2 separate regions of the Homo sapiens genome follow, and region 1 is linked to region 2. The links come from fine-mapping of genetic effects on gene expression. A gene starts in region 2. The other region holds a variant in brackets. All regions are shown on one strand. Distances are from middle to middle.

Region 1 (15,949 bases), 420 kb before region 2:
CTCTTTTAAATTTCAGCATGACACAGTTTTGAATTCCAAAGAGTGTCCTATATTTTCTATTATATGATCAGACTACATTTGACCTACCTCTCTATCTCATCTCTCAACATCATAGCCCATGACCCAGCTCAATGAAATTATGTATAGGTTCTCCACTGTGTCATGCTTCTATGCATTCTCAACATACTATTTCTTTCTCGTGGAATGTCTTTCTTTTCCATCTAGCTGATGCTAACTATAAGTGGAAACCTTCCTGCCCTGCCCTGATTGAGATGCCATTCCTGCACTCTCAAAGCACCCTGTCCATCATGTAACAGTGCTGTTCGTGCCATGGAACAACTGCCAATTTAGTTTGCTCGATCTATCCATAGGCTGTAAGTTCCTTGAAGGCCTGGCTATATCTTCTGGCATTCTGTAGGCTCACAAAATATGTGAAGAATGGTGAACACACTGTGTTTATGGAAAACAACTTAGTATAATTTAATACACACTAATCAGGGATTACCCAGAACATGCAGTTTTCTAGCCTGTAAGGCACTTGGATAAATAACCGTGATGAGATGTCATCTGTGTGCTTTCTCTAAACATAGATTACCAATAACAACAACAAAAAACCTAACAATAATAATGTGTTTTCTGAGGTTTAAGAGCATGCTAAAATAATAATGAAAGATGCATATAAACAAGGTTGTATAGACGAAAAAACTAAATCACAGGGAACTTATTTATTTTCTTCAAATTTGCACCAGAGAAACTGATAAAGGTGGGATTTAAATGTATACAAGCCAAACTGTAGATATTATGTGTTTGACCATAAAAGATCACAAAAAGGTGTTTGCTTTTTAACAATTACATCTACTATTTCCTCATATGGAACTTGAACTGTTAGCTGGTACACAAGTTATAGTGGTTTTTGCCATTACTTTAATTTTGTCATTTACTTTAATGGCAAAAACCGCAATGACTTTTGCACGAACCTGATACATTAAAAACGAGTTTCTTAAATGTTCAAACAAACAAGAGAGTGTCTCTTCAAAAGTCTCATCTAAAAAGTATGCTTTAAATTTATATGCAGAGTCTTTTTTTAATGGCTGCTTTTACCTCTTGATTTCTTAATGTATAAATAATAGGATTTAAGAGAGGTGTGAAAATTGTGTAAAACACAGAAAGAATTTTATCTACCGAGTATCTGCTGAAGGGCCAGACGTAGATAAAGACACACGGAGCAAAGAACAGAGTCACAACTGTGATGTGAGCTGAGAGAGTGGAGAAAGCCTTAGAGGATCGACTAGCAGCACGGTACCTAACTGAGAATATTATGACTCCATAGGAGACAAGCAAGAGGAGGAAGCAGACCAGTGACAGGAGCCCACTGTCAGCAATGACCAGGAGCTGTAGGATGTAGGTGTCCTTGCAGGCAAGTTTAATCACAAGGGGAAGGTCACAGAAAAAGCTGTCTATAACATTGGGACCACAGAAGGGCAAAGTCAACATGAAAGCCATTTGACTAGATGAGTGCACAAATCCAACTGCATAGGAGGATAACAGTAGCCCAGTGAGCACCCGTGGGCTCATGATGGTCATGTAATGGAGGGGTTTGCATATGGCAACATACCTGTCTATTGCCATGGCTACAAGCAACATCATCTCACTCCCACCCAGGAGGTGCATAAAGAACATCTGGGAATAACATCCCCACCATGAGATGGTCTTACGTTCTCGGAGGAAATCTACAATCATCTTAGGGGTAGCAAAAGAAGCCAGGATCATATCAATGCAGGAGAGGTTGCTAAGCAGAAAATACATTGGTGTGTGAAGGAGCGAATCAAAGGTCACAGTCACCAAGATGAGCAGGTTTCCTAACACAATCCCCACGAAGACCACAGAGAATCCCAAGAAGAATAAAATCTGAAGATTTTGAGATTTGGAAAGTCCCAACAAAATAAATTCCGATACCACTGAATGGTTTGCTCTTTCCATATCGTCAACTTTATCCCATAATGATCAAAATAAGTGAGAATAAGGGGTAGGGAAATGATGCATATTGGAAAGAAATGTTCATGTTGATGTCCACATTTGGTACTCAGTCAAGGCACTTGAACTTACAAGGACCCTTACTTTTGTGGAATTTTGTCAGTCAGTGATTTTACTAATGGCCCAGAGAAGTATCCCAAATAGTCAGTAGAATTCAGAATATAAGTTTCTGGAAGACAAAAATAAAAACATTAATAGTACATGAAACCACAAAACTATAGGTCATGAATTAGAATCAGAAGACCTCTACAGGACACCTGGGTAAGCTGCTCACTGGGTGACACAGGACAAGTAACTCTCCTTTTGAGGGTTTTCTTCTCAGTGAAAAAAAGAATTTGGACTATATGGTATCGAATGCCTCTTTCTGCTATAAAGATCTCTATGAATAAGATAATGATTCTGGTGAGTTTTATAGTCACAGAATAATATTGAGTTTTATTAATGTGGAAAGGATATCAAAAATACATCCAGGATTCTCAAGAACCATGTTTTGAAATGGACTCTGGTAAAGAAATATGAATTAGGTCCTGAGAAACTTACCTTATTTCCTCCATGCTCCATTCTTGCATGAATCCCTCACAGATCAGTATTAGCAGTAGTCACTACACACTTTTGAAGTGTCAAGTATATGTATAGTATATATATATTAAACATGTATATTACATACATTTCATATATTTATATATATTTATATAATTCGTTCATTCAACATTTCATATTATTCACATCAAATACCTCCTCTAGATGGTTAGACAATGTGTACAAACAACCCACAGTCAAATGTAATTGACTAATTTCACTTTCAGCTTGCATTCATTTATTCATTTACCTGGTTATTGCTATGTAGTGGTTAGCTGGTTGGCCTGTGTATGGTTGTCATAGGTTTCAAAATGACTTAGCTTGATGTAACATTTATGTTGGTAAAAGAAATACAGTTCTTTCAGTATAATCTAAATTTATGACAAAATTTGTCATCGGCTCATGCTTATTACAAACTGGTTCTATTGGTTCAGCTTTTAAAAAAATTGCCTCCGTTGCTAATAGTTTTAAATTAATCTAGGTCTTACAAAACACCTTCAGTAAATAAAGTATTTGTAGTCATCTTTTTGTGCTGTTATTACTTACAAGACAGGGGAAAAAAACTTTCGTGATGGCGTCGTACGTGAATCCCAGGAATGGCCTTTTATCTCCTTTTCCTGTATCCCCATCAGTTATCTGCAATTTACTCTTCCAATCATCAGAAACAGAAAAAATAGAGACCATAGTGCTATATGTTTCTATGAGATAATCCCATAGGAACACTTATCCAACTAGGGATGTATTTTTTTCCCTATGTAAACATATCTGTTGGCCAATTTCCCACTCTGAGAAACTTTGATGCAAAATATTAAATTTCATCAAATATGTAATTAGAGCCATTCATTTATATGTCTATAAAGGTAATAGCTCTCTTCAGTTTTATGACTAATATTTAAGAATTCCTACTAATGCTTCTTTTTGAAACCCAATTTTTGAAGCTGCATTTAAACAGAAGAGAACAATTTTCAAATACATACAAAGAAGTTTATAAATCCTCCACATCTGGAATAGTGCATATCAAAAACACTAAGTGAATATCTGTTGAATGAATAAACTATGTAGTGCATATTCAGGATCTAGATTAAGTCAGCTGACTTAATCCACAGAAAAATCCACAACATTAGGAATTTTAACAATATTTATTTTTAAATGTCAAATTGAATGTTGAAGTATTTTAAAATCAGAAATAGAACAGCCATTCTTAAAAAGCTGGTTAAAATATGTTTTTTTCTTTTAATTATCTTTTAAAAAAAAAGGTAGTTTATGCCAATGTGAAAAAAGCACATCACAGATAACAGAAAGACTGACTGAACATTTTAAGAGCTTCTTAGATAACTTTCCAGAAAAATAATACACACTTCAGTACAGTGTGTGTGTGTTAGTGTTACAGGTATTTATATTTATATCATTTTATTAAGACTGCAGATTATATATTATATGTATAGCTATTTTTCTTGAGTTTTTAACTTATTACATTTAAATATGTTTATATTAACATATAGAAACATAACTTTTTAATAGGTGTATAGAATTCCACTTTGTAGATGTTGCATAATGTAATCTCCCCACAAATACAGTTTATTCTTAGAATGAATTTAACATTACCTATAAAAATTATTTTTCATCATATCACTCTCTTCTTTATAAACCTGTGATAACTACCTTATCAATCCCTAACTTCTCCTGGATATTCATAATCAACTCCTCACCCACCCTAAAAATCCAATATTATTTTCTTTTTTTTTCTTTTTTTTTTTTTAATTATTATACTTTAAGATTTAGGGTACATGTGCACAATGTGCAGGTTAGTTACATATGTATACAAGTGCCCTGCTGGTGTGCTGTACCCACTAACTCGTCATCTAGCATTAGGTATCTCTCCCAATGCTATCCCTCCCCCCTTCCCCCACCCCACAACAGTCCCCAGAGTGTGACATTCCCCTTCCTGTGTCCATGTGTTCTCATTGTTCAATTCCCACCTATGAGTGAGAATATGCGGTGTTTGGTTTTTTGTTCTTGCGATAATTTACTGAGAATGATGATTTCCAATTTCATCCATGTCCCTACAAAGGACATGAACTCATCATTTTTTATGGCTGCATAGTATTCCATGGTGTATATGTGCCACATTTTCTTAATCCAGTCTATCATTGTTGGACATTTGGGTTGGTTCCAAGTCTTTGCTATTGTGAATAATGCCGCAATAAACATACGTGTGCATGTGTCTTTCTAGTAGCATGATTTATAGTCCTTTGGGTATAAACCCAGTAATGGGATGGCTGGGTCAAATGGTATTTCTAGTTCTAGATCCCTGAGGAATCGCCACACTGACTTCCACAATGGTTGAACTAGTTTACAGTCCCACCAACAGTGTAAAAGTATTCCTATTTCTCCAGATCCTCTCCAGCACCTGTTGTTTCCTGATTTTTTAATGATTGCCATTCTAACTGGTGTGAGGTGATATCTCATTGTGGTTTTGATTTGCATTTGTCTGATGGCCAGAGATGGTGAGCATTTTTTCATGTGTTTTTTGGCTGCATAAATGTCTTCTTTTGAGAAGTGTCTGTTCGTGTCCTTTGCCCACTTTTTGATGGGGTTTCTTGTTTTTTTCTTGTAAATTTGTTTGAGATCATTGTAGATTCTGGATATTAGCCCTTTGTCAGATGAGTAGGTTGTGAAAATTTTCTCCCATTCTGTGGGTTGCCTGTTCACTCTGATGGTAGTTTCTTTTGCTGTGCAGAAGCTCTTTAGTTTAATTAGATCCCATTTGTCAATTTTGGCTTTTGTTGCCATTGCTTTTGGTGTTTTAGACATGAAGTCCTTACCCATGCCTATGTCCTGAATGGTGATGCCTAGGTTTTCTTCTAGGGTTTTTTATGGTTTTAGGTCTAACGTTTAAGTCTTTAATCCATCTTGAATTAATTTTTGTATAAGGTGTAAGGAAGGGATCCAGTTTCAGCTTTCTCCATATGGCTAGCCAGTTTTCCCAGCACCATTTATTAAATAGGGAATCCTTTCCCCATTGCTTGTTTTTCTCAGGTTTGTCAAAGATCAGATAGTTGTAGATATGCGGCGTTATTTCTGAGGGCTCTGTTCTGCTCCATTGATCTATATCTCTGTTTTGGTACCAGTACCATGCTGTTTTGGTTACTGTAGCCTTGTAGTATAGTTTGAAGTCAGGTAGCATGATGCCTCCAACTTTGTTCTTTTGGCTTAGGATTGACTTGGCGATGCGGGCTCTTTTTTCGTTCCATACGAACTTTAAAGTAGTTTTTTCCAATTCTGTGAAGAAAGTCATTGGTAGCTTGATGGGGATGGCATTGAATTTATACATTACCTTGGGCAGTATGGCCATTTTCATGATATTGATTCTTCCTACCCATGAGCATGGAATGTTCTTCCATTTCTTTATATCCTCTTTTATTTCACTGAGCAGTGGTTTGTAGTTTTCCTTGAAGAGGTCCTTCACGTCCCTTGTAAGGTGGATTCCTAGGTATTTTATTCTCTTTGAAGCAATTGTAAATGGGAGTTCACTCATGATTTGGCTCTCTGTTTGACTGTTGTTGGTGTATGAGAATGCTTGTGAGTTTTGTACATTGATTTTGTATCCTGAGACTTTGCTGAAGTTGCTTATCAGCTTAAGGAGATTTTGGGCTGAGACAATGGGGTTTTCTAGATATACAATCATGTCATCTGCAAACAGGGACAATTTGACTTCCTCTTTTCCTAATTGAATACCCTCTATTTCCTTCTCCTGCCTAATTGCCCTGGCCAGAACTTCCAACACTATGTTGAATAAGAGTGGTGAGAGAGGGCATCCCTGTCTTGTGCCAGTTTTCAAAGGGAATGCTTCCAGTTTTTGCCCATTCAGTATGATATTGGCTGTGGGTTTGTCATAGATAGCTCTTATTATTTTGAAATACGTCACATCAATACCTAATTTATTGAGAGTTTTTAGCATGAAAGGTTGTTGAATTTTGTCAAAGGCCTTTTCTGCATCTATTGAGATAATTATGTGGTTTTTGTCTTTGGTTCTGTTTATATGCTGGATTACATTTATTGATTTGCATATATTGAACCAGCCTTGCATCCCAGGGATGAAGCCCACTTGATCATGGTGGATAAGCTTTTTGATATGCTGCTGGATTCGGTTTGCCAGTATTTTATTGAGGATTTTTGCATCGATGTTCATCAAGGATATTGGTCTAAAATTCTCTTTTTTTGTTGTGTCTCTGCCTGGCTTTGGTATCAGGATGATGCTGGCCTCATAAAATGAGTTAGGGAGGATTCCTTCTTTTTCTATTGATTGGAATAGTTTCAGAAGGAATGGTACCAGTTCGCCCTTGTACCTCTGGTAGAATTTGGGTGTGAATCCATCTGGTCCTGGACTCTTTTTGGTTGGTAAGCTATTGATTATT[G/T]CCACAATTTCAGCTCCTGTTATTGGTCTATGCAGAGATTCAACTTCTTCCTGGTTTAGTCTTGGGAGAGTGTATGTGTCGAGGAATTTATCCATTTCTTCTGGATTTTCTAGCTTATTTGCGTAGAGGTGTTTGTAGGATTCTCTGATGGTAGTTTGTATTTCTGTGGGATCCGTGGTGATATCCCCTTTATCATTTTTTATTGCGTCTATTTGATTCTTCTCTCTTTTTTCTGTATTAGTCTTGCTAGCAGTCTATCAATTTTGTTGATCCTTTCAAAAAACCAGCTCCTGGATTCATTAATTTTTTGAAGGGTTTTTTGTGTCTCTATTCCCTTCAGTTCTGCTCTGATTTTAGTTATTTCTTGCCTTCTGCTAGCTTTTGAATGTGTTTGCTCTTGCTTTTCTAGTTCTTTTAATTGTGATGTTAGGGTGTCAATTTTGGATTTTTCCTGCTTTCTCTTGTGGGCATTTAGTGCTATAAATTTCCATCTACACACTGCTTTGAATGCATCCCAGAGATTCTGGTATGTTGTGTCTTTGTTCTCATTGGTTTCAAAGAACATCTTTATTTCTGCATTCATTTCGTTATATACCCAGTAGTCATTCAGGAGCAGGTTGTTCAGTTTCCATGTAGTTGAGTGGTTTTGAGTGAGTTTCTTAATCCTGAGTTCTAGTTTGATTGCACTGTGGTCTGAGAGATAGTTTGTGATAATTTCTGTTCTTTTACATTTGCTGAGGAGAGCTTTACTTCCAAGTATGTGGTCAATTTTGGAATAGGTGTGGTGTGGTGCTGAAAGAAATGTATATTCTGTTGATTTGGTGTGGAGAGTTCTGTAGATGTCTATTAGGTCTGCTTGGTGCAGAGCTGAGTTCAATTCCTGGGTATCCTTGTTAACTTTCTGTCTCGTTGATCTGTCTAATGTTGACTGTGGGGTGTTAAAGTCTCCCATTATTAATGTGTTAGAGTCTAAGTCTCTTTGTATGTCACTAAGGACTTGCTTTATGAATCTGGGGGTTCCTGTATTGGGTGCATATATATTTAGGATAGTTACCTCTTCTTGTTGAATTGATCCCTTTACCATTATGTAATGGCCTTCTTTGTCTCTTTTGATCTGTGTTGGTTTAAAGTCTGTTTTATCAGAGACTAGGATTGCAACCCCTGCCTTTTTTTGTTTTCCATTTGCTTGGTAGATCTTCCTCCATCCTTTTATTTTGAGCCTATGTGTGTCTCTGCACGTGAGATGGGTTTCCTGAATACAGCACACTGATGGGTCTTGACTCTTTATCCAATTTGCCAGTCTGTGTCTTTTAATTGGAGCATTTAGTCCATTTACATTTAAAGTTAATATTGTTATGTGTGAATTTGATCCTGTCATTATGATGTTAGCTGGTTATTTTGCTCATTAGTTGATGCAGTTTCTTCCTAGTCTCAATGGTCTTTACATTTTGGCATGATTTTGCAGCAGCTGGTACCAGTTTTTCCTTTCCATGTTTAGTGCTTCCTTCAGGAGCTCTTTTAGGGCAGGCCTGGTGGTGAAAAAAATCTCTCAGCATTCGCTTGTCTATAAAGTATTTTATTTCTCCTTCACTTATGAAGCTTAGTTTGGCTAGATATGAAATTCTGGATTGAAAATTCTTTTCTTTAAGAATGTTGAATATTGGCCCCCACTCTCTTCTGGCTTGTAGAGTTTCTGCCGAGAGATCTGCTGTTAGTCTGATGGGCTTCCCTTTGTGGGTAACCCAACCTTTCTCTCTGGCTGCCCTTAACATTTTTTCCTTCATTTCAACTTTGATGAATCTGACAATTATGTGTCTTGGAGTTGCTCTTCTCGAGGAGTATCTTTGTGGCGTTCTCTGTATTTCCTGAATCTGAACGTTGGCCTGCCTTGCTAGATTTGGGAAGTTCTCTTGGACAATATCCTGCAGAGTGTTTTCAACTTGGTTCCATTCTCCCCATCACTTTCAGGTACACCAATCAGACGTAGATTTGGTCTTTTTACATAGTCCCATATTTCTTGGAGGCTTTGTTTGTTTCTTTCTATTCTTTTTTCTCTAAACTTGTCTTCTCGCTTCATTTCATTCATTTGATCTTCAATCACTGACACCCTTTCTTCCAGTTGATCGAATCAGCTACTGATTCCTCAGGGATCTAGAACTAGAAATACCATTTGACCCAGCCATCTCATTACTGGGTATATACCCAAAGGACTATAAATCATGCTGCTATAAAGCCACATGCACAGGTATGTTTATTGTGGCACTATTCAGAATAGCAAAGACTTTGAACCAACCCAAATGTCCAACAATGATAGACTGGATTAAGAAAATGTGGCACATATACACCATGGAATACTATGCAGCCATAAAAATGATGAGTTCATGTCCTTTGTAGGGACATGGATGAAATTGGAAATCATCACTCTCAGTAAACTATCACAAGGACAAAAAACCAAACACCGCATGTTCTCACTCATAGGCGGTAATTGAACAATGAGAACATATGGACACAGGAAGGGGAACATCACACTCCGGGGACTGTTGTGGGGTGGGGGAAGGGGGGAGGGATAGCATTAGGAGATATACCTAATGCTAAATGACGAGTTAGTGGGTGCAGCACACCAGCATGGCACATATGTACATATGTAACTAACCTGCACATTGTGCACGTGTACCCTAAAACTTAAAGTATAATAATAATAAAATTAAAAAAAACATATTTAAATCTACTTTGTGTCTTTTCTATTAGTAAGGTCTCTTTGGCAGGGCACTGTGGCTGACACCTATAATCCCAACACTTTCAGAGGCCAAGCTGGGAGGCTGTCTTGAAGCCGGAAGTTCAAAACAAGCCTTGGAAACAAAATGAGACATCTTGTCTTGATATAAAAAAAAAAAATTAGCCAAAGTGGTGGCGTGCACCTTAGTCCCAGCTACTCTGGAGGCTGAGGTGGGAGGATTGCTTGAGCCGAGGATTCCAAGGCTGTGGTGAGCTATGATCACACCACTGTACTTCAGCCTGGGTGAGACAGCGAGACTCTGTCTCAAATAAATAAATAAAAATAAGGTTTCCAGTCAGATATAAACTATTTCATCTTTTTCTGGTTATTTTAGCTCTCATTTAAAAAATACTGTATTATTATGTCTTAGCTAGCTTCTTTCAAAATTTTTGGCTACCATTATTTATATTTCAATGGGTATCGTTTCACATGGGTCTGCTTCACCTATCTAGAACAACATGGAGGTGTTCCCTGTCAATCACTTTTTTTTTAAACCAGAGTTCTGCACTTTATAATATCGTTATAAATGGTATGGATAGTTTAAGAGATCTGTTTGGACATTAAGCTGCTTGTCAGAGAAAGTAAGTGAGGCAGAGGGAAGCCAGCAATAAATGTTCATTATGCTATCTCTGAGCACTATACTCCCCAATCTACTAATTCACGTGCTCCATGGGAGGAAACTCAAATACTGGACCCTTCTTTCAATCTCAGGAAAATTGAGGCCACCTCAAGTTGCACAACCATAGATTCACATGTATCAAGGATTCATTCTGTTTATCATCTCTGCTTATCTTACTTTCAGCAGCAACTACAGAAGTGACTCCTAGTATGTTCATGTTCCATATTCCATCTTATCAATTTCATTTTTCTTGATCCTTCTCAATTAAAAAACCATTTGCCTCCTCTTTCACTTGCATGTTCCTCATGATTTTTGAGTGTAGAAAGAGATTTGAAGAGGGACAGGCCCTCTTCTTTGCCTATGGAGGACCAATAAATCTGTTCCTCCAATTCTGAAGAGGTGGCAGGAAACTTCCATACCTCCTTACCAACTGGGTTATTCACCTTTCTCAAGATTGATGTAGATATGAGTTACATATTGATGGCTTCAAATTTATTCAAACATATTGGCAGTTATTCATAATTTTTGCTGAGAAATTATGTCTACTCTTTTTTTAATATTGGATTCATTTTTCTTCAATACTTTTGATTCTTTTTGCACATTTCAGTGAATTTTAGAAGCAGTGTTAAGTGCATATGTATTTCATTTCTCATATCTCTCAGAATTTAATTTTTATTTTGTTTTAGGTCATATATGCCAACAGACAAACAAATGGAAAAACAAAATCAGTCCATGGTGCCTGAATTTATTTTGTTGGGATTCAAAAATCTCATGAGCTACAGATTTTCTTTATCTTATTTTTCCATTCTCTACATATCCATAATTAAGTAACCTAATCATTATCTTTGTAGTGAAACTGGATCCTCAATTGCATTCTCCCATGTACTTCCTACTGGCCAACCTGTCATCTACTGATATGCCCCTGGCCTCCTTTGCTACTCCTAAGAAAATCGATAATGTAATTAGTGAATATAGGACCATCTCCTATGAAGGCTGCATGACATAGAGATTTTTCCTTCACTTTTTAAGTGGAAGTGAGATGGTTTTACTCTTAGCCATGGCAATCGATAGATAATTTGCCATATGCAAACCCCTCCATTACAAGTCCATTGCATCGGACTTGCTCCTCGCTCCTGGACTATGGATTTCATGCACACCATGAGCCAAATTGTTCTCACAGTGACTTTGCCATTCTGTGGTCTCAGTGTTGTGGATATTTTTGTGTGTGTGTGATCTGCCTTGTGATAAAACTTGCCTGTACAGACACTTACATCTTGGAGCTATGAGTCATTGCAGACAGTGGACTACTTTCTTTGCTGTGTTTCATGTTTCTGTTAATCTCCTATAGCACCGTCCTGATTATTATTTGACATCATTCCTCCAGGGGGTCTTCCAAAACTCTGTCCACGCTTTCAGCCCACATTATGGTGGTGGTACTGTTCTTTGGAGCTTGCATCTTTACCTGTGAAAGACCATTCAGCACTGTCTCCATTGATGTCTGTGTTTTAAACTATTTTTGCTCCCCTTTTAAATCCAATCATCTACACATTCAGGAATAACGACATGAAGAAAGCATTAAGAAAAATGAAGATTAACTTTGTGAGTTCTAGATCAACTTGATAACTAAAATATTATAATCACTAAAAGCATCATCATTATTGTTGTCATCATCATGATCCAAAGACACTGAAGTGGAGGATTTTTGTACCAAACGTAAGCCATATTTTGGGATATAATAATCGATCCCCATGTAAGTGTACATGTAATATAATATTCTGATTTTTCCTCCAAGTACAAACTATTCCAATATGTTATTTGCTTATGTTGTAATTTTATGTTGCCTATTGATTAAATTATATTTTTAAATGTAATTTATTGAGTGCTATTCATGTATGAGGCACTTTCCATAAATTTTCTCCTATTTCACAACAAGGAAAATAGAGAATATTATTTACATATTATCAATAGGTAACAAAACTGAGCATTATAAAACGTAATGAAATTGCCACAGAAATATAAGTACTAGATCCAGTATCATATCCTATACCTAACTATAAAATCTATGTTTTTCTAACTAAAAATGCTTTCCTATCTACATTTTAATAACATAATTTTTTTGTTTTCTGAACACTTCTTTACAGATCATAGTCCTCAATAAATAAATCTTTGCAAAAAGAAAATATGTGGTATTTTATTAACCTGAAAGTAAATACTGTCACTAATACCAAGACATTTGAATCTTCTTCCCCTCCAGTTTTTTTTTTTTCTGTTTGTGTGTGTTTGCTCATTTGTTTTGAGACAGGGTCTCGCTCTGTCACCCAGGCTAGAGTGCGGTGCCCCTATATCAGCTCACTCCAGCCTCTGCCTCCCAGGTTCAAGTGATTCTCCAACTTCAGCCTCCCAAGTAGCTGAGACTACAGGCACGAGCCACCAATGCCCAGCTAATTTTTGTATTTCTTGTAGAGATGGGGTTTCACCATGCTGCCCAGGCTGGTCCTGAACTCCTGAGCTCAAAGCAATCCTCTTGCCTTGGCATCCCAAAGTGCTGGGATTACAGGCATGACCTACCACACCCATCCCAGACATTTAAGTATTCTTTCACCTCTAATTAAAAAGAGAAGAGCTTATTAAACCAGCCAAGTTGACTCACTCCAATTATCAATGCATACTAGAATTGCTGTTGTACAGTTGGGTAGGGAAGCCCATGTCTGAAACCCAAGTGATTTGCTGTTGTACCTCATATTATTTGCATATCAAGTAGTAAAAATAAGTGAACATTACATCACCTAGGAAAAATAAAATTTTTATTCATTCCACCACGTAAAGAATCACCATCACTGGAGATCTGAATGCATACAAAGAGGAATAAAATAGGCAGTAAAAGAAGGTAGCCGTGAACATTAATTGTCTCACAATTTGTTAGTAAAATGATGATTTTAGAAGCTACAAATTTTTTATATAAATTGCATTTGTTCACAAATTCCTGGTTCCTTTTTTCCTTTTTATTTTTTCTTATCAAGGAGACTAATTTACAATTTAGTCTCTAGGTTACAGAATATTAATGTGGGATTATGAATGAATTCGAAAAGATGGCAACACCGTACAGAAATGGATATAGTAACCAATGAGGATTTTTGGTTTTCAGTTAGAGAAAGGAGGCCAGAGTGTCTTAATTTGTTTGCAGGATAGATGCATCTTTAGACTGAAGCTATTGTCATTCTTTGGAAGTTTAAATAAATGTAGAATGATGTGTATTGATACTGAGTAACCAAAGGGGAGCATTCTGAATGTTTGTCTGTTGACCTTCAACCCCATGTCAGCTCTATAGTCTTCTCTCTACAGTAGGGAGTTACAAGCCTGAAAACTGCATTTCCCAGACTCTCTTGTAAACTTATTCCTGTGAGTTTCTGCCAGTAGAAGACATTCATATGATACTGAAAGGTGAAAAAAAATGAAAAAATGGAGAAGCCTTAGATTTCTCTTCTGTCTTTCTCAGTAACTGTAGCAGGCAACTGTGGACTGTAGAAGTCTTGGTGGGTCCCAGCAGCATCAGCAATATTGAAGGCTCTTGAAGCTTCCTTAAGTATATGAGCTCTTAATTTTTAATACAGGATAGAGGTTCCAACAGCAGCAATGATGCCACTGTGCCAACAGGAATTGTGGGCTCTGTATAATATTGCTTCCTTTTTTTTCTCATCTAGCCTTTAGAGTGGTAGTTGCTTTCTGCAGTAACCTAAATGTTGATAATATCATCTAACCTTTTTTGTTCCTCATTTCTGAGCTACTCACACATTTTTATTTTCAACTTCCTACTATACCCTTCCCCAGCTATCTTGAAGGCATCTCAAGCCCAAATGCAAAAAATTAAATTACCTAACTTCCAAAGCCTGTTATTTTTTCTGCACTCCCTATTTGAAGTAATATGATCATTATCAGGCTAACATCCAATCTAGAAGCCAAAGTTGACATTTCATAACATATGTAGGTGCTCTTACTAGTGTTCCACATTCTCTGAGGCTCTATTTATTTTTCCTTATTTTTATCCCTCTCTGTTGAGATCGCATAATTGCTACAGATATGTTTCCAAGTTAACTGGTGCCAGCTCAAATCTACTGATGAGTTCCTTTATTGATTTCTTCATTTGAGTTATTATACATTTCAACTTCTGAATTTCCATTTGGTCCTTTTTTTTATAATTTCTATATCTTTATTGATATTCTTTATTTGCTAAGACATGGACTTCATATATTCCTTTAATTCTTTAGACATGGCTTTCTTTACTTCTCAAAATATATTTATAATAACTGTTTTGAAGTTGCTTTCTACTAGGTGCAATATCTTGGTTCCCATAAAAGCAGTTTCTATTGGCTTTTTTCATGTAAATGTCACACTTTTGTGTATCTTTGCATTTCTCATCATTTTTCACTTGAACATTGGACATTTTATTGTAGTAACTCTGATTACTGACCACCACTCCCATCCACTGATGATTTTCTTGTTATTGTTTGTTTAGTTGTTTATTTAATGACTTGGCTTAAACCTGTGAAGTCGATTTCCCCTGCAGTGTGCAGTGTCTGATGTCTCTACTCCAAATGTATCCCTTTTTAAAATTCTCCTAGCCTGGTACTTGTGGATTATGTCAAGGACAGCACAAGCTACTTATGGAACAAAGATTTTGCTTAAGTATCCTTCCTGACCAATTAGATTTTTATCCTTTATCACTAGACGTAGGTGTGGCTAGGAGGCTTCTATCAAACTCAAGAAACTTACATTTTTGCCCCACATTTATTTAGGGACTAGAATGTTCCCTCTCCAATCACTCCTGAGAATTACACACATGTGGACATTCACTCAGTCCTCCAGACTGCCAGGAATCTGTGTGATTGTATTTGTAAGCATAGCTTCCTAAGAAGTTGCTCTTGGTTCAGTGTAGTTTGTTATTTAGCTAGTGTTTGCTTAGAGGTTTTGCTTAAGCTTCTTGTGCCAGTAAGCCTTCAACCCTTTGTCAATGGAATTGTGTGTGGCTTTAAGAATGTTTTCATTTCTGCCCCATACCTTCCTCTGATTTTCTTCTAAGTGGATGCAGCCAGTACATATCCACAGCGTCTCCTATTCCCAGGACTATCTATGATTCCAGTAGGGCTCTTATCTGTCTCTTGCCTGATCCTCTTTGATAAACATGTTGACTCTGCCATGTGACATGTTGATACCAGAAACATGGTGCTATCAGCAACTTCTTAATTGTTCTCCATCAGCATCTCTGTGGTTTCTGACAATGCCTATAGACATGGAACTCTTGAAGCTCTGTTCCAAATAAAGGTAGGCCCCTCAGGTGGAGCTGCAGAGTTTTCATCCTTATGGCATGCCTTTCTTCCTGGGCAGAACTTCTGTGCCAGTGCACAAGAGCAGGGACAGCAGCCCACTTCTCCCAAGATGATATGCCTGCTCTCTGAGTGGGCACTGAGAAGAGTCGAGTCTCTGGTCATCTTGGCTTGCCTTTTCTGGCACAAACGACTGCTGTAC
Region 2 (12,992 bases):
TGAAATGATCTAGTTTCGTGGGTGAGGGGCTGAAGGGCCTATGATGCACGGAGGCGGGGAAAGGATTTAGAGATAACGTGGTTTGAAAGGCGGGACCTGGTGCGGGGACGCTCTTGGGAGGAGTCTTCTCCCCAGCCTTAGCTGGTTTCATGATTTCTTTGCGTCTGTAGGCAACGCGGTAAAAATATTGCTTCGGTGGGTGACGCGGTACAGCTGCCCAAGGGCGTTCGTAACGGGAATGCCGAAGCGTGGGAAAAAGGGAGCGGTGGCGGAAGACGGGGATGAGCTCAGGACAGGTAAGGGAATGAAATCAGCCCTTCTTCCTAGAAGCTGCGGCGGGGGTGTTTGTCATTCCCTTGATGTACGGTAAGTACGGGCCGACTCATTTTTGCAGGGGTTTGTGAAGAAGTCGCAGGAACCGTAGGCTTTCGTTGGGTCTATAGTTAACGCCGGATCGCAGTTGGAAACCACCAGCTTTTTGTCAGTATATATTACTCATTTTATAGAGCCAGAGGCCAAGAAGAGTAAGACGGCCGCAAAGAAAAATGACAAAGAGGCAGCAGGAGAGGGCCCAGCCCTGTATGAGGACCCCCCAGATCAGAAAACCTCACCCAGTGGCAAACCTGCCACACTCAAGATCTGCTCTTGGAATGTGGATGGGCTTCGAGCCTGGATTAAGAAGAAAGGATTAGATGTGAGTGGAATTTGAGGGAAAGAGACATTTTTTAGTATTGAATGGTCTTAGGGTTTAGTCACCCCTTTTCTCCGTTTAGCCTTCAGGCTGTTTTATTTTTCTCCTGCCCGTAGTTTTCTGTGGGGCTTCCCCAGTCTTGCCAGTTGTATTTCCTAAATGTCTGTTCCTTCACTTCCATTGCCATTTTCTTTTTTAGTGTTCTCTCCTCTTCCCAGAATGTTGCAAAAACCTCTTCACTATACTTCCTCCATTTTATCTTCCTGCATTGCATTCCATATGAAGCATGTCCTCCATTCCATTAACCATAGCTTAAAAATCTTAGCTTGCTATCCACTGCCTATAGAAAAAACACATCTCCTTGGCATAGCATGTAAGACTTTCTTACCTCTCTATATTTGTTTTCATTTATCTAGCTTAGAATTGTTTGAATATTGTGCTGCTTGACTCGAACTCCTTAGGCCAAGAGACTGTTTAACCCGTGCGTATCTATGACTTAGCATATAGATTATTCAATAAATGTTCTGCTGAATTGATAATACGTTTTCCACCTTTCTTTTCACTTACAGTGGGTAAAGGAAGAAGCCCCAGATATACTGTGCCTTCAAGAGACCAAATGTTCAGAGAACAAACTACCAGCTGAACTTCAGGAGCTGCCTGGACTCTCTCATCAATACTGGTCAGCTCCTTCGGACAAGGAAGGGTACAGTGGCGTGGGCCTGCTTTCCCGCCAGTGCCCACTCAAAGTTTCTTACGGCATAGGTGAGACCCTATTGATGCCTAATGCCTGAACTCTTCAAAACCAATTGCTAATTCTCTATCTCTGCCCCACCTCTTGATTGCTTTCCCTTTTCTTATAGTTTTTTATGCTAATTCTGTTTCATTTCTATAGGCGATGAGGAGCATGATCAGGAAGGCCGGGTGATTGTGGCTGAATTTGACTCGTTTGTGCTGGTAACAGCATATGTACCTAATGCAGGCCGAGGTCTGGTACGACTGGAGTACCGGCAGCGCTGGGATGAAGCCTTTCGCAAGTTCCTGAAGGGCCTGGCTTCCCGAAAGCCCCTTGTGCTGTGTGGAGACCTCAATGTGGCACATGAAGAAATTGACCTTCGCAACCCCAAGGGGAACAAAAAGAATGCTGGCTTCACGCCACAAGAGCGCCAAGGCTTCGGGGAATTACTGCAGGCTGTGCCACTGGCTGACAGCTTTAGGCACCTCTACCCCAACACACCCTATGCCTACACCTTTTGGACTTATATGATGAATGCTCGATCCAAGAATGTTGGTTGGCGCCTTGATTACTTTTTGTTGTCCCACTCTCTGTTACCTGCATTGTGTGACAGCAAGATCCGTTCCAAGGCCCTCGGCAGTGATCACTGTCCTATCACCCTATACCTAGCACTGTGACACCACCCCTAAATCACTTTGAGCCTGGGAAATAAGCCCCCTCAACTACCATTCCTTCTTTAAACACTCTTCAGAGAAATCTGCATTCTATTTCTCATGTATAAAACTAGGAATCCTCCAACCAGGCTCCTGTGATAGAGTTCTTTTAAGCCCAAGATTTTTTATTTGAGGGTTTTTTGTTTTTTAAAAAAAAATTGAACAAAGACTACTAATGACTTTGTTTGAATTATCCACATGAAAATAAAGAGCCATAGTTTCAGCCTTGCTGTCTTCGTGTCTTACCCCTTCGTGGGGCTACACATTCTCTTCCTCATATTTTCATGCACACAAGTTAACAACTGAAAAAGCGTAGAGTCATGACCTTATTTATTTACAAGCACAGGATAAGTCCCTAACCTCCCCCAAAGACTGAGCAACCCTACCCAGCCCAGTTAAATACTGCAACTGGGGGGGTAAAAAAGGTCGGGAGGAGGAATTAAGGGAAATACAGGAATAGGGGAACATATCCCACATTAAATAGTTATATACACATCAGTTCCTGTGGTTCTGTACAGAGCAGCGGCTGACCCCACCCCCACAGGACACAATGTGGGGAGAGGAGACTGAGGGTACTGAGGCCAGAGCCAACCTCTGGTGAAGTGCAATAGCAGCAGCAAAGTCCTAATGGTGCACAAGAGGGAGGGGAACCCCCAGGGCTACCCACCCCCACCCTGCCCTGGAATGTGTAAGGGACAGGAATGGCTCTCAGGGAGCACACAGGAAGGACAAGGCTGGAACCGTCTTCAGGGCCCAGTTTTAAGGGCAACGTTTTGCCTACTTCACCCTAGACACAGCAACCCTTGGAGGAAAGCAGATGGTCAGCAGTGCTCTTATCTGCCCCTCCAAACCTAAGTGAGGGCCTGGTTCCTTCCTACCTCTCCCCAGGGAAAAGGAAGGCAGCTGCTTGGCTTCCTTCTAGAAGCCCCGGGAGCCTTTAACTACCCCAGCTCCCTTCGTAGTGTCACTGTCCCCACCAGGGAGGGGCCAGGCACAGTCTGTGGGTCATCAGGCTCAGGAGAAGTTCTGGACAGGGTGGCTGACCTTCATACAGGCCCAATAAAGAGCCCGGCCCAAACACAGCACAGCCAACAGGATGACAAATGCCCAGGCTGCATAGATGCCTCCATATCGCCGTGCATGCTTCCATGTGCCAAACTGATGAAGATAAGGAGGGAGAAGAAAAGAAAGATGGGGTTAATGTTGGTCTCCACTACCTCCTATTAGTTCTAAGAACAGTAATAACTCACGCTTCAGTCCTTGTTCCTTATCCACATGTAGCCACCCTCAGGGACCTTCTTAAAGGCAGAGCTGATCAGCTTCCTTCCCTTAGGCGTAACATACTCATCCCATCCCACACTGTATCTCAGTTTTTCTTAATATCTGACAACTGAGCCAGGTTTGAAAAATAGCAACTCTTAAATTAAGAATTTCACTGTCCTATCCTCATCCTACAGAGAAAGGAAGGCTGTTTTTCACTCTTGTAGTAGTAATAAAGTCTGTTTGATCAGCCACTTTGCACTTTAGCTCATCCATATCTTAAAACAAAACAAACTAGTCCCCCAAGTTTCTTCCACTTTTTTTTAGGGTAGCAGTTTCCCAAATCTTAGCCTATGGAGATGAGGCTGCAGAATGAAAGAGGTTGGGGCAAGGGTACTCACGGCAAGGCCAGTGGCAGTGACTGCCAAAAGCAAGCCAAGCAAGAAGCAGCAGATACATCTCTTACGTGGGTATCTGCGCCCAATAGATGACCTGTGGGGAGGCAAATAGAAATGGATGCTTTCTATGGCCTTGTAGTTTTTACTCCATACATCAATTACCAGCTCAATCCCTAATCACTTACACTTTCCTGCAGTGAGGACAACGTGCCAAAGTGCGGTCTGTGAACTCTGTCCACTATGGAGAAAGAAAACAAAAATAATAGCACAAGCAGGGTCTCCCTCAATGAGAACCTTGGGGTGGGGATGCAGAACATGTTCCCATAGGACAGACCTTTCAGGGGTCATTACCATTACTCTAAGAAATATACTCGAAATGACTCTTAGTCTCCTTTCCCCTCCCCTTCCCAATACCCCTTCCTCACCAGAAAAGTATTCTTGCAATGTCCACAGATAACCCTGACACCCATGGGTTGGGGTTCTGGACTCAGAGGTCCGGGATGCACAGGCCCCAGGTTGATGATTCTTTTGCTATACAAAAGAAAAAGACTTGTATTTTCAAACTTGTGTTTGAAAAATTTTTAATCCTAAAAATCTTCACAGTCCCTGTTCCACATCCCCCACTCCCTGTCTATTAAGTCACTCGACTTCTCTGTACTTAAGATACTCTGTCCCCCAACTGTATACCCTCAAGAATCCTTGAGAAAGAAAGAGCACTGTTTAAACTTCAGGTCCCCAATTCCCCTCCGACCTCAGGATAACACACCCAGTCCCCAAGGCTCTCTATTCTCCGAAACGACATCATTTCATCTCAATATTTTTATTGAGAAACGAGAAAGACAGCTATAACATTCCTGAGGCACATGCTTCAAAGCCTTTTCTCCTAAATAAACACTAGGCTCTCTCACCTTTACATTCTCTGTATACGCTCATCCTTTTTTGACTTTCCAGTTCCCCACTTAGGCCCTTCCCCACCTTATGCCTCTTACCAGTAGGGCCGAGGGCATGCAATCCGTTGGGATGTCACTTTGCAGATAAGGAGACAGTTACAGGGGCATCGAACATATTTTTTCCCTGGGGGTGCATTCTTGATTGGCTAGAGAATAATAGGGTCATCAGCAAGCAAACCTCTAATCCCAATCCCCTCCACTTCCCTCCAAAAACACTTTATGAGATCAGAAAAATAAGGTGCTAACCAGGAAGGAGAAATAAAAGAAAGACTATATCATGAGATTTGCAAATAGGAACTAGGCTAGGTGTAAAAGTGAGAGAAAGTGAACATTAGCTTTGGTGAGTGGCTTCTGGGGAAATGGCTGTGTGAGACACCTGGAACTGAAACCTGGGTATCATCAAAAGCACTTGGCTAATAGCCGGAAGGTCAGGGTCTAGAACCAAGACATCAGAAAGAGGATCCAGGAAACAGGGCCCATTTCATAGATATGTGTAACTCACGGTGGCTTCATTGCAGACACCACATTTGACTACATGCTGATGCATCTTGCCTTCCACGTTGATGAGAGATTGGCAGACTCGGCAGGTGATCATAGGGGCACTCCCACTGTCCGGGCTAGTTAAGGGTGAATAGGGGGGTGGGTCCTCCCCAGGCAACACGGCTGGATGCCCCTCGGGAAACGGGGGAAATGCTGGAGAGGAAGCAAATAGAAGGGCTGGGATCACTTACACCCCCACTGATGCTCCACGGTGGTAGGGAAGTCCTTCTGATCTTCAACCCTCTGACCAAGCTCGGAGGGCTTCTCATAATTGGCACTTCTATCAGGTTGCTCAGAACCCCCTTCCGTCCCTAGGCTGTGGTCGCGATTACGGAGGGAAGGAAGCCTCGCCCAGTCACAGGTGCAGCAGTCCCGCACCTGGCGACTGGGACCCGCCTCCGCCCTCGGTCCCGCCCCCTCCCCGGCTTTCAGAGTACCCCGGGGAGCACCTCGGACCCGCCCCGGCTTACCCTGGGGCGGGGCATGTTTACCGGCTCCGTACGGTGGTGCGGAGGGGGTCAGGCCTCCCCCGGGCCCAGCCCCACTCCCGCCGGGCCCCACTAAACCGTTGCCGCCCGCGCCACCGTCGATGGGCTCAGACAGCAGCGGGGAACGCTCTCCATCTGCCGCCATGGCCGCCACCGCCGCCTCCCGCTCAGGTCGGCGATCCGGCTCCCTTCGCCTCTGCCGTCGCCGCAGCCACCGCCACCGCCGCCACCGCCACCGCCGCTACCGGGTCCCCAGGGCGCCTGCGCGCCGCGCGCCCAGCTCACTCCGCAACCAGTGGCCTGCCCCGCCCCGTTCCGTCTAGCAGCACGTGATAGGCTATCCCCGCCCGGGTCATGCTATTATTCGCGTAGATAAACCAATTCCTGGTCCTGTGAAGGCAGCTCTCCTTTTCCATTGGGGAGCGACGCACAAACGTCAACTGTCACATGACCTGCCAGATGCTGCTGGGCTTGCAAAACCTGCACGTGACTAGAGGTTCTGCAAGCTATTGGGAGCGACGCCCATCGCGCTACCTCCAGACCAGGAGGTAGGGCTAGGCTGCGTCTGCTCAACTGGTCACGTGTTTCTGGAAGCTGCACGGTCCCTGTTGCTCTGCTCCTCATTGGTTCAAAGACACCACTAAAACACTTTTCTCCGGCTTTGCGTTGTAGCTGGTTTCCTATTGGCTGGTGACTTTACTTCTTTCGTCCTGTGATCCTAGCGGCGCAACTGCATTGGCCCGAACTTAGCGCCAGAACATGGGGGGCGTGGCTTATGCATTTTAAAGGAGGCTGGGCGGGTGCAATAAAGGAGTGCGGAAGCTTGGGATCTTCTGAGCGGGGAGAAAATGGACGGTGGGGAACAGTAGACAAAGTTAGCTGTTCTACTCAAAGAAGTACCTTTAAAAAGTCAGAGTAATGAGGTACCAGAAGGAAATGGATTAAAAAGTTAAGATTATCACTCCAGCCTTTGTCGCTAGAGTCACTTTCAGGACAGGACACAAGACTGGGTTTTCCTGGAAGCTGTCCTTACAGAGCCCCGTCTTTCCCCATTGCTGATCAAATTGTTAAATTATCTTTTCATTAGTGTCTCCACTACTAGAAGATTTCATCGTTTTACTAAAAAAAAAAAAAAAAAAATTCAATAGAGATGGGGTCTTGCCTATGCTGGACTCAAACTCCTGAGTTTGATCTCCTGCCTAAGCCTTCCCAGTAGCTGGGACTACAGGGACAAGCCACCGTGCCTTTACTCAGTTTTATGACCACCAACCTTTAACATACGCACAAGTTTGTAGATTGGATTAATCAAATACAAGGTTATTTTCGTCACCTTATTTGACAGATGGGACAGTCTTTAGGCCTGTCTCAACTTTGCTTCCAGCAAAGGGGCAGTGCCTCCTCCCCTACCTGAAGTCTCGTGTGGTCTTTATGGGCGCCTGAACCACACCTGGATTTTTTCCCAAGTCATAGCCCAAACTGGGACTGCTTTAAATATGGGAAGCAACAAGGAATTGATAAAAACAATAAACCCCGAGGAGGTCCATTATCAGTTTGGCTAGCAGACTCTCCACTAAGAAAGGAAGTGCATCAAAGAAAGTACAGCCAGCCCCAAATATGTAATAACAAAGGAACTGCAGATGTCCCAGCACTTGGCTGCTACAGGGGCTGGAGACTTCACCTAGGTCCTGATTTTTTTAGACAGGGTTTTCTCAGGCCAACTTCTACTTGGAAGCTAGTAACCTTCGACCAGTTAGATAAGAGCCCCTAACAGACACTTAAAGAACTAAGGAAGCTCCAGATACAAAATAGGGAAGAGGTTGTAGCTCCATAGAGGGAGGCCAGTCTGCTGCTTTTTCTGCTGTTTGTGGCACACAGATGCTCAAGCATTGTCTGGGGTTGGAGTAGGATCCATTATTTGCGCCCTAGTTACACATATATTCCAAAAACTGTCCTAAAAATATTTTTTAAATATCTACACTTTGTGAAAGACACTCCTTAAAAAAGCTTACACTCTGGGTAGGGAGACAGAATAGTGTAAACATTGACAGTATAACATATCAGGTCAGGAGTGGTGGCTCATGCCTGTAATCCCGGTGTTTTGGGAGGCTGAGGTGGAGGATTGCTTGAGCCCAGGAGTTCAAGGTTACAATGAGCCATGATCTAAACCTGGGCAACAGAGCAAGATCGTGTCTCAAAAAAAAAAAAAAAAAAAAGAAAATCAGCACTAGTATTTTATTACATGGAAAAATATCAATACTAGAAATTCATGATACAGCACATGCTTCATAATAAAAGAATTAAACAATGTAATTCAAGTTCAAGAAAAGAAGAGATCACTTCTAGCTAGAGCAGCCAGAGAAAACTTCTAAAACATAAAGAAAAATGAGTATTGTGCATGGATAACTAGGATCTGAGCTCTGTGTTGTTGAGTAGATCAATAGGCAGAAAAATGCAAAAAGTAATCATAATATTTGGAACTTGCTCACAGTTAATAAAGCATTTTTTTTTTTGAGACAGAGTCTCACTCTGTCGCCAGGCTGGAGTGCAGTGGTGTGATCTCTGCCCACCTCCCGGGATCAAGCGATTCTCCTGCCTCAGCCTCCCGAGTAGTTGGGATTACAAGTGTGTGCCACCACACCCAGCTAATTTTTGTATTTTTAGTAGAGATGGGGTTTCACCATGTTGGCCAGGATGGTCTCAATCACTTGAACTCGTGATTCACCCGCCTCGGCCTCCCAAAGTGCTGGGATTACAGGCGTGAGCCACTGTGCCCGGCCAATAAAGCACATTCATAGTTATATTCATTTTATTTCAGAACCCACTGTGATGTGGACAGGGAAGGCAAGACTATATCTTTATTTTACAGATGTGGAAACTGAGGCTGTGTAAACTGGAGTCATTTAAGCTAAGTGACAGATTGAAATGGAGCTCTAAATCCCCGTCTTCTGACTTATGATCTAATATTTTACATTCAAATAATTTGATAGGTAGATTGAAAGGGACAGAAGCACAGAAGTGGCAGAGAGAAGGTGCTTGGGATGAGCCCCCTTTTATGCTAAATGCCTGGAACATAGAAGCTGCTTGATAGATGGCTCTCTAATTAATTAATGAAGTAACTTAAGCCCCATCTTGGGATAAATTTGCTGGGTACTGAACAATATTGTTAGCTGCAGTTGCAAGCAGGGAGGATATTCAGCTGGGGCACTACAGGGTGGCTGGCATTGGTTGTTTATGGCGCCATTGGTTCTGATTGGTTGGTACCTGTATTTTACAGATAAGCCATTTTAATATTATCTCTGGTAAATATTGAGTGTCTCAGGTATTGCCTGATTTTTACCTATGGGGTGGGATCTTCTCACTTAGATTGAGAACAGTTAGGCTATTGAGGTGTATTAATTTGCTAGGACATAAAAAACACTATAGATAGCATAAACGACAAACATTTATTTTCTCACAGCTCTGGAGTCTGGAAGCCCAAGATCAAGATATTGGCAGGTTTGCTTTCTCCTGAGGCTTCTCTCCTTAGCTTACAGATGGCCACCTTCTCACTGTGGCATAAATGGCCTTTTCTCTACACACATTTTTGCTTTCTCTTCCTCTTTCTCTTCTTTTTCCGTGCTTTTAGAGACAGGGTCTCACTCTGTCACCCAGGCAGGAGTGCAGTGGTGCAGTCATAGTCTGTGGCGGCCTTGAACTCCTGGGCACAAGCAGTCCTGCCACCTCAGTCTCCCAAGTAGCTGGGATGACAGGTGCATGCCACCATGCCTAGCTAATATTTTAATTTTTTGTAGAGACAGGGTCTCACTATGTTGCCCAGGCTGGTCATTGGTCTCTAACTCCTGGGCTCAAGTGATCCTCTTGCTTTGGTGTCCAAATGCTGGGATTACAGGTGAGCACCACCCTGCCTGGCCTCTCTTCTTCTTATGAGAACAACAGTCTTATTGGATTGTGGCCCCACCATTATGACCTCATTTAAACTTAATTACCTTTTTAAAGGACTTATCTCCAAATATAGTCACAATGAGGATTAGAGCGTCAATATAAGAATTTGGGGGAACACACTTCATTGTGTTATATAATAGAATAGATTTCAAAGCATTTTTTTCTTTAGATTTCCAACAAAGTGATAACTAGTACAGTGTGTACATGGCCAGAGGATGGGGTGGAAAACATCTGCTTGGCTTCTATGACCCAAAGTGTCCCAATCTGATTTCTTTTTTTTCACATATTCCACATGCCCTATTTCTTTTTTCCTCTTTCCTGAAGTGGTAATTTACCACCTGTGTGAAAACAACACAATCCCTTACTGCATTTCAAAGGCACAGAAAGTTTCTGGTAATGTGCAGAGTGAGTTAACTAAGACGAGGGGTAGTTTGCCGGGGGTTGGGTGGGATTGGGTAGGGTGTGACCTGGTTTTAAAGAATTAATTTACGTTAATTACATTGGGACTTTGCTCCCTTGTGCTCCTTGCTCTTCCTGGGCCTCAGTTCTTTGCTCTTTCCTTTAGGGAATTCCTGGCTTCCCTTTCTAGGAGCCAAGGTCTTTGGAATAGAGGGTGGTAGGCCAGTCCTTTATCTCTGCTCTGTTCTTCCTGCCACTGAGTGAGGCACAGATGGAAGTCTCACTCTTAGAAAAGAGAAATAAAAGTGATCCCTATAACAGAAAGAGAAGGGCTGGATGTGCTGGTTCATGCCCATAATCCCAGTACTTTGGGAGGCTGAGGTGGGAGGATCACTTGAGCCCAGGAGTTTGAGACCAGCCTGGGCAACATGAAGATACCCCATCTCTAAAAAAATAAAAATAAAAAATAGGCGAATGCGGTGGTGCGTGCCTGTAGTCCTAGCTACTTGGGAGGCAGAGGAAAGAGGATCGCTTGAGCCTAGGAGATTGAGGCTGCAGTGAGCTGAGATTGAGCCACTACACTCCAGCCTGGGTGGCAGAGCGAGACCCTATCTAAAAACAAACAAACAAACAACAACAAAAAAAAAACAGGGAAAAACCCTAAAATGTTTTAATTTCAGTAATTGGAGAAAATGGAAGACCAAAGATTATGGTGATAAGGGGAGTAGATATTTTATTTTATTTTTTGAGATAGGGTCTCACTCTGTCACTCAGACTGGAGTGCAGTGGCTCCATCACAGCTCACTGCAGCCTTGACTTCCTGGGCTCAGGTGATTCTCCTGCCTCAGCCTCCCTAGTAGCTGGGACCACAGATGCCACCACACCTGGCTAATTTTTGTATTTTTTGTAGAGATGAGACTTCACCATGTTGCTCAGGCTGGTCTCAAACTCCTGGGCTCAAGTAATCCTCCTGTCTTGGCTTCCCAAAGTGCTGGGATTACAGGTCTGAGGCACTGTGCCTGGCCAGGGATAGATATTTTTAAAACCGCATATTTAGCTTGTGATCTAGAGAGAATAAGAGATCTCAGTTGAGAGGGCAGGAATAAAATACGTTCCACAAGGCAATACTGAGTGACTTAGAACCTATTCCTGCCACTTTTTTTTAGTTTCCTTGATCTTGCGGGTGGAGGGTAAGTGTGTTACTAAGTATGTTCCTGGACAAGGAGTCCCTCTGAAGATAGAAGTGATGAGAAGATAGAAGAAAAGGTAATAAGGCATTAATGAACTCTAATCACACTAAGATTGATGATCGTCTGGTTCCTGTCTATAGGAATGCTACAGGAACTCTTTTACCCTAAAAGTAAATAATAAAGCACAGTTCCAGTTTCTTTTATGTGGATACAAGGTGGCAGTGACTAGAAAAGATAAGAACAGTGCTGTGCTCTAGCATAAAAACGTAATTATGCTATGCAATATGGTAGCCACTAACCACATGTGACTATCGAGAAGTTACAATGTAATTAGTATGATTAGGTAACTGAATTATTTTTATTATATTTCATCTTAATTAATTTTATTACTTTTAAATAGCCACACATGGCTAGTGCCTTCTGTTTTGAACAGTGTGGGATTCATTGGTATTGATAGGCTGGATATACCTCTAGTTTTTATTTTGATTCAATTTATGGTTAGGTGAGTCTAGAAAGAACAAAAGAGAAAGAGACAATGGAGATTAATCATAATAGCCAGCATTTAATGTGTGCTTATTATATATCCAGGCATTTACCTAAACATGTAAAAGGTATTCTGTATAATCCTTGCAAAAATACTAAGATTATTGCTATTTTACAGATGAAAAAATTGAAGCATAATAAGAATTTTACTTGCCTAGAATCACACGAGTAAATAAGGGGTGAAGATGGCATTCATACACAGGTAGTTTTATTAGAGCCCATTCATTTACACTACATAGATTCAGGAATGAGGTGGCATGGAGTGACTGGGGCCATGGTTCCCAAACTGTGCCAAAGTACAAGCTCACAAGGGTATTGTGGAATATTTTTAATTTTCAGAGGAAACACAGCAATATTTTATATTTCTTAAACACTGTGTGACCTATTAACTTGAGGTGATTCACAGTTGGAACATTAGATTGTGCTACATTCCTTTTGATGACAATATATCTGGCCAGGTGTGGTAGCTCATGCCTATACTCTCAGCACTTTGAGAGGCCGAGGTGGGCAGATCAGTTGAAGTCAGGAGTTCAAGGCCAGCTTGGCCAATATGGCAAAACCCCGTCTCTACTAAAAATACAAAAATTAGCCAGGCATGGTGGCAGGCACCTGTAATCCCAGCTACTCGGGAGGCTGAGGCAAAAGAATGGCTCAAACCCAGGCAGCAGAGATTGCAGTGAGGCAAGATCGTGCTACTGTACTCCAGCCTGGGTTACAGAGTGAAACCCTGTCTCAAAAATATATATATATATAAAGACAACATATCTTTACAAAAGATGGTTTTAGAAGGTCCCTCTGATAAAAATTAAGTATTAAGTAAAAAAAAAAAGTACTGTGTAAAAATCAGCATGGAACAGAAAATGAGGGTGGCAGCATTGGATTCCTGCATGTGAGAAGTTGAGTAGTGCCAAACAGATGTACATATCCCGTAAGTAACTGTTTGTGGTTATTTAAGAACGAAATTTTTTTTTCAATTTGTGTGCATTGTTATTTTCAAAGTGCTAGTAAGTTCTCAGGAACCAGCTACTCACTCTGTTGCCCAGGCTGGAGTGCAATGGTGTGATCTCAGGTCACTGCAACCTCCACCTCCCGGGTTCAAGCCATTCTCCCTGCCTCAGCCTCCCAAGTAGCTGGGATTACAGGCG

Direction of the effects. Positions count from the first base shown, and alleles are read on the strand shown. Sizes are in standard deviations (SD) of each study's normalised expression.
For the expression in subcutaneous fat of the gene that starts at base 6,027 in region 2, allele G in region 1 goes with a lower level than allele T (large effect, 1.6 SD a copy in FUSION).

The links. PIP is the estimated chance that this variant, and not a neighbour inherited with it, causes the effect.
Region 1: its variant is fine-mapped to the expression of PIP4P1 in subcutaneous fat (FUSION, PIP 0.91).

The regions. Positions count from the first base shown.
Region 1 is chr14:20,032,779-20,048,727 of GRCh38, forward strand. It overlaps OR4K13 (olfactory receptor family 4 subfamily K member 13), which reads right to left and starts at 3,260. Exons shown (of 2, transcript NM_001004714.2): 1 at 3,160-3,260; 2 at 1-2,203. The coding sequence starts at 1,980. The coding sequence ends at 1,066. It also overlaps the pseudogene OR4U1P. The variant G/T (reference allele first, on the strand shown) is at 7,032.
Region 2 is chr14:20,455,408-20,468,399 of GRCh38, forward strand. PIP4P1 (phosphatidylinositol-4,5-bisphosphate 4-phosphatase 1) reads right to left here and starts at 6,027. Exons shown (of 7, transcript NM_144568.4): 1 at 5,777-6,027; 2 at 5,248-5,438; 3 at 4,785-4,891; 4 at 4,221-4,326; 5 at 3,981-4,033; 6 at 3,799-3,889; 7 at 2,274-3,295. The coding sequence starts at 5,918. The coding sequence ends at 3,152. APEX1 (apurinic/apyrimidinic endodeoxyribonuclease 1) reads left to right here. Exons shown (of 5, transcript NM_001641.4): 2 at 171-296; 3 at 507-694; 4 at 1,261-1,453; 5 at 1,584-2,360. The coding sequence starts at 239. The coding sequence ends at 2,101. RefSeq lists enhancers at 1-82, 5,347-6,313, 6,242-6,311, 6,314-7,279, 6,612-6,691 and silencers at 1,683-1,977, 5,482-5,651, 5,712-6,121.